2 separate regions of the Homo sapiens genome follow, and region 2 is linked to region 1. Evidence: fine-mapped expression QTL. Tissue or cell type: whole blood. Region 1 holds a variant in brackets; the other region holds the start of a gene. All regions are shown on one strand. Distances are from middle to middle.

Region 1 (2,683 bases):
TTCTAGAAACATATAGACTGAAATGGTATCTTTTAAGTCCAAGGTACCATCTGCCATTATCTGTGGATTCCAGATTTTATTTCTAACCAAATGTCCTTTTAAATGTCATTGTCTGAGACTTAGACCATCTAGTTGGGGGGTCAGTATTACTTAAACTTCTAACATCTTGGTACAGTCAGTTCCTAGCCTTAAATGTCTGTTGATACCAGTAAATCTCAAACTTTAGTATAAGGATTACATGAGGAGCATGTTTGTAACATGTAACATGTTTACATGTTAATGGTGTGAATTAAGCCACTCTTCACCTGTTCTCTTAATAATATTTTGGTATCTGTATCTGAATAGGTATTATATAAGTATTATCCCTGTTCTTATGGAGGTCATATGAGATTGATTAGGAAACAATTCAACATTTTCTGTTGACTTGGCAGTCAATTTTGGAGTCACTGTTTCAGAGGCACTTTTCTTGCCATCTTCCAAACTTCTCAGTAGCCATCTTAGAAGGACATTTTGAAGAAGTCCTCTGTGGTCAGTGAACTAGCTCGGAACCACTTAGAGATTGACTCTGCTGGAGAGGATGGATGGAGGGCAGAGTGATTAGGGCAGAGTATTGTGCTGGACTGGGGCTTGTACAACACGGAAGGAGTTGTGAGAAACTGGAGGAGATAGAAATCAAGATGAAGAATGTTACAGTTATACAGACATAACTTTTGTTCAAGCTTGGTTATTCTCTTGCTATGGAGACCTGGAGTTGGTAGACATCAGAGATGTGTTTAGGCAAAGAAATGGGATATCTAGCAAGTGTCAAAGCAGAACTAAGGATTGGGGTGAACAAAAGAGTGATCCAGTGCTCTCTTACTACATACTAGAACCCAAAACTGTTGCCTTAAGGAAAAGGCACTGTTTTGAGGATCCCTTGACCTTACACTATTTGGGAATTGTTGGACCTGAAATGACTTTGCTGCTGATGCTGAACAAGTCTCCCTCCAAACATAAGGTTGTAGACAGGCTAGTTTGCAAGGAGTGCTAAGGATGTCTCCACAGAATGTTTCCTCTGGGGCTTTTCTTTCAGCTTCTCTGTTATCTGTTTTTTTTT[G/T]TTTGTTTTTTTTTTTTTGCATAGGTAAGTGGTTCAGAAGTCAAAACAGTATAAAAAAGTCTCATTCCCACCCTAGTATTCATCCATGCCATCCTTCTCCCTCCCCTACCTTCTAGAGGTAACCATTTTTATTAGTTTGATTATCCTTTAGACTTTCTTAAAAAGTGCAGTTATAAACAAATACTGATACAGATTCTTGTCCTTCCTCTTACCAAAACAAGGAACATACTATCTGTACTGTTTCTATACCTTGCTTCTATATCCTGGAGAGTCTTCGTATCAGTATGCAGAGACTTTCCTCATTAAAAAAATTATAAGTTTTTAATAAGCAGGCATTACTTTTATAATGAACACAAGGATAAAACAAAAGTAGAGTAATGAAATAATTGTTCTTTTTTTTTTTTGAAACAGTAGCTACAGTAACCCATTTGATCTGACTGCATCTTAGCATGTATACATGTCCTTTTGATCTTCCTAAAAAAAACTCATACATAACAATGAATTGAAGAGTTAGTTACCCACATCAGCTCTGTAAATGTATGGCAACTTATGCTAGAGCTTACAGCCATTATGATATGGGGAAGAGAGACTTGCAAAGTTCAGCCAGGGGACCTTCCAGACTTCACTCGAGTGTGATACTTGAACAGGAGGAGATCTTTGTACTGCTAGCAAAGGGATGCTACTCTATAAAAGGTCTTTAAAGGAAAGGAGTGGCCTACCTTATTTTTTTCTTGCTTCCATTTCAGTTTTTGTTCTGGAGATGAATTGCTCTAGAACTTAGTGTCCTGTAACTGTTCCATGTATTAGAACTCTCGCCCATTGCCTTTGGAGCAGTGTGGAAGAATGCTTGTGATTCAGTGTTTGGTGGGAAAAGCAGGAAACAAATTATGTACACCTTATTACAATTGTTTCATATTAAAAACAAATGCATTAGTGAAAGATTAGAAGGGAATATACCAGACTACTGTAACAGAGATTTTGTTAGGGTACTACATACTTTCTCTTTTAATTTTTCTATAATGTGGTTATATTGTTTTTATAATGAAAAAGACACAGGGTTAAAAAGGAAATTTCAGTGTCTGACATGCTTGGAGAAGATTCTAGAGCACTTCTAGATTTCTAGAAGTACTTGGACCTGAGATTTCGTCTGCCAAGCCAAGTACTAGCATTCAGTTCTATAAAGCAAGTAACAGTATCCTTTACTTCACTCTTAACAGTTTCTTTTTGAAAAAACAGACTCCAATGTAAAAAAAAAAAAAACAAAACTCTTTTCACTTCTAAGTACCATTGGACAAGGGACCCCAGTGATATAACAGAAGGGCATTGGTAACCCCATTTCTGCAAGATGGGATGGAACCATTCTTTCCTCCTGATCCTACAATAACCCCAACTCTTCTTAGAGCCAGTGATTTCTTCTTTTAGATCTATTAGATGGGAAGATACGGCACTCTCCTGTGTGTGTGTTTGCATTTCTTTTAGCAAGAAAAACTGCAAAAATCCTTCCCAAGAATTTCCCGTTTTTCCTATTCTGCTTGCATTTTTCTTTTCGGCCACGGGGTGCGCGCAGTTGAGCTATTTTGGCTCAGG
Region 2 (2,683 bases), 74 kb before region 1:
TCGCCTTTCGGCAAGAGGTCAGCGGCAACGCAAGCTCTCTACCACGACCCTGGTCCCGCTTCCCCGACGCCCCGAGCGTTCCCCTTTCCAGCTTGTTCGCGCTTCTGTCCCTCCCAAGGACACTGCAGCACGAGATGGGACGGCATTCTTAGGCGGCGGGAGCAGAAATCCTGCCTGAGTCAGCGCCCGCACCTCCTCCACGCCGGCCTGAGCCAGGCCTCTGCAGCCCCTTCCTCTCAGTACTCCCGCACCCCTCTCCCTTTTTGGTTTCTCCCACCCTGACCACCTGGCCGACCCGGTACCGGTGATTTGGTTCTGGTTCCGGCTTCTGCTGGGGTTCCGGCTCCAGGGGCGTCCTAGTGCGGCTCAGGGCCCCCGACGCCCTTCCGGCGCTCATCCCTTGATTCCTCCCCTCCCCCTTCGCCGCCTCACCGGCCCCGGGCTGTGGCTGCGGATACCCGCGCCGTGGCAGGCGGGGGGAGGGAAGAACAGAGAAGGATGCGGGCTGGCTGAGAGCGGTGGCAGGCTCCGGGCAACTCCGGCCCTGGGTCAGGGAGATCGCCTCCGCAGCCGCCCTGGCTTCCCAAATGCCTTCACCCGTCGCGGGCCCAGGACCAGGGGGCGGAGCGCAGGTGTGCGGGGCGGAGAGCGTGAGCTCTGCGCGCGCGTGACTGCGCCGGGCCCCCCCGGGGCAATGTGCGGCGCCGAGTCTGGGTCCGGGTAGGGGACAGGCGGTCCGGCGTGGGTGTTGTCCACTGGTCTATCCGGTACGCCTGGCGCAGCTCCTGCCCTCAGATGCCCCGACCGAGCGGAGAGTCAGGAATCTTCTCCGAGGGCTGGGGGAAGCCGGCTTTCCGCACCTTTGAGGGACGGAGTGGCGGGATCTTCGGAGCTTCCTAGAGAAGTGACCACGGCCTGCGCCCGGTTTGGGGCAAGCGGCTGGATGGGATGGCTCGGCTTCCCGAGGATCTGACCCCCGGCCGGAGACAAATGGCCCTCGCATCCTAGGAGCTATGCTGCCAGTTCCCTGCCCAACCCGGGACGCTCAAAGCCCCAGATACCGGGAGAGCTGAGCCGGGCGAGGGGCGGAGCTCCCCTGGGGGCGTGGCCTGGGTGTGGATGGAGGCGGGGCCGCAACGCCCAGTTCCGCAGAGGCCGGCTACGTGCTTGCGCAGCACGCACGGCCGGGGAGGGGCTGGCGGCGGCCGCGGGCGGCGGGCGGCGGAGGTGCGGGGCCTGCTCCCGCCGGCACCATGGCCAAGACCGTGGCCTATTTCTACGACCCCGACGTGGGCAACTTCCACTACGGTGAGGAAACAGGGATATGCATGAGGGGTTGGGACACGGAGGTTTTGAGGCGGGGTTGCAACTCCAGGGGTGAGAGCTGACGAACTCTCTTCTCCCCACCCCCAGGAGCTGGACACCCTATGAAGCCCCATCGCCTGGCATTGACCCATAGCCTGGTCCTGCATTACGGTCTCTATAAGAAGATGATCGTGAGTTCCGCCGCCTCGGCCGGGGGTTGGGGGGTGGGGCGAGCTGTGGCCGTAGGGATAGGTGGGCTGGACTGAGTGCATGAAGTGCGACCCGCCCCTAGAGTATCGGGGAGCTGGATAGAAGTCACCAGGAGTACCTTGAAAGTGCAGGGTGTTGGGGGTGGCGTCCTCTGCTTAATGGAAAGTACTTTCTCACCTCAGGTCGGCCACCCTCTGACTGTAGGCACACTAGCCCTTGGCCTAGGGTTAGCGTGATGTGGGGCTGGTTTGAAGACAGAAGGTGTGTTCCTCCTCTGCATTTTAGAGTGTGGATAGGGCCTTGGCCTCAGGAATTAGGGTTAGGGGAGCGGATATCACTGTATCAGGGTGTGAGGTTTACCCTCAGTTCCCACTCCTCTTTTACCACCTTTCTTTACCTCCAAGGAGCTAGGGCTCCAGGGTGGAACGATGCTGCCGTCTTTGTAAATGTGTATGTGCGTGTGGAACAGAGGCGATATTTTAGATATTCCTTTTTCAGCCTGGAATACCTCTACATGGTTCTGCTTAATCGCTATCCAGTTTTTCATCTACCAGACATACACATGCTGTCTTCCCAGCTTGGAATTTATGGCTGTGATATGGGATAGTAACAGTTAAGCCACGCCAGGCGTGGTGGCCCATGCCTGTAATCCCAGCACTTTGGGAGGTTGAAATGGGGGGGATCGCTTGAGGCCAGGAGTTGGAGACCAGCTTGGGCCACAGTGGGACCCACATCTACAAAAAATAAAAATAAAAAAAGTAGCCATGTGCGGTGGGTGTGCCTGTAGTCCCAACTACTTGGGAGGCCGAGGCGAGAGGATGGCTTGGGCCCAGGAGTTTAAAGTTACAGTGATCTATGATCAGCAGCCTGAGTTGACAGGGAGGACCTTGTCTCAAAAGAAAAAATAAGACAAAACAGCTAAACCCAGGCTTTATGTGTTGCTAGGGAAACTAGTGAACAATATGAATGAATGTTCATTGCTTGTGCCAAGGCACAGACAAATGGACTGGTCATAGAAAAGACTGAGGTGATGTTAGTGCAGGAATCTATATCCCTTGAGATTGTTTGCCTGTATGTACCTGTGTGCATTTTCTGGGAGAAGAAAAGCTCTTTCTTGTGCAGTTTTCAAAGAGGTGTGACACATCCCCCTGACCTTCCAAAGATAATA

The links. PIP is the estimated chance that this variant, and not a neighbour inherited with it, causes the effect.
Region 2: RELL2 starts here. The variant in region 1 is fine-mapped to the expression of RELL2 in whole blood (INTERVAL, PIP above 0.99).

What each region holds. Positions count from the first base shown.
Region 1 is chr5:141,561,038-141,563,720 of GRCh38, reverse strand. The region is part of intron 18 of DIAPH1 (diaphanous related formin 1); the gene reads left to right. It overlaps DIAPH1-AS1 (DIAPH1 antisense RNA 1), which reads right to left. Exons shown (of 3, transcript NR_038333.1): 2 at 1,816-1,919; 3 at 1-656. Among named protein-coding and RNA genes, the nearest start is that of DIAPH1-AS1, 4.1 kb to the right of the region's middle. The variant G/T (reference allele first, on the strand shown) is at 1,097.
Region 2 is chr5:141,635,361-141,638,043 of GRCh38, reverse strand. RELL2 (RELT like 2) reads right to left here and starts at 1,047. Exons shown (of 7, transcript NM_173828.5): 1 at 1-1,047. HDAC3 (histone deacetylase 3) reads left to right here and starts at 1,195. Exons shown (of 15, transcript NM_003883.4): 1 at 1,195-1,308; 2 at 1,414-1,496. The coding sequence starts at 1,254. RefSeq lists an enhancer at 459-508 and silencers at 1,019-1,308, 1,369-1,418, 1,428-1,722.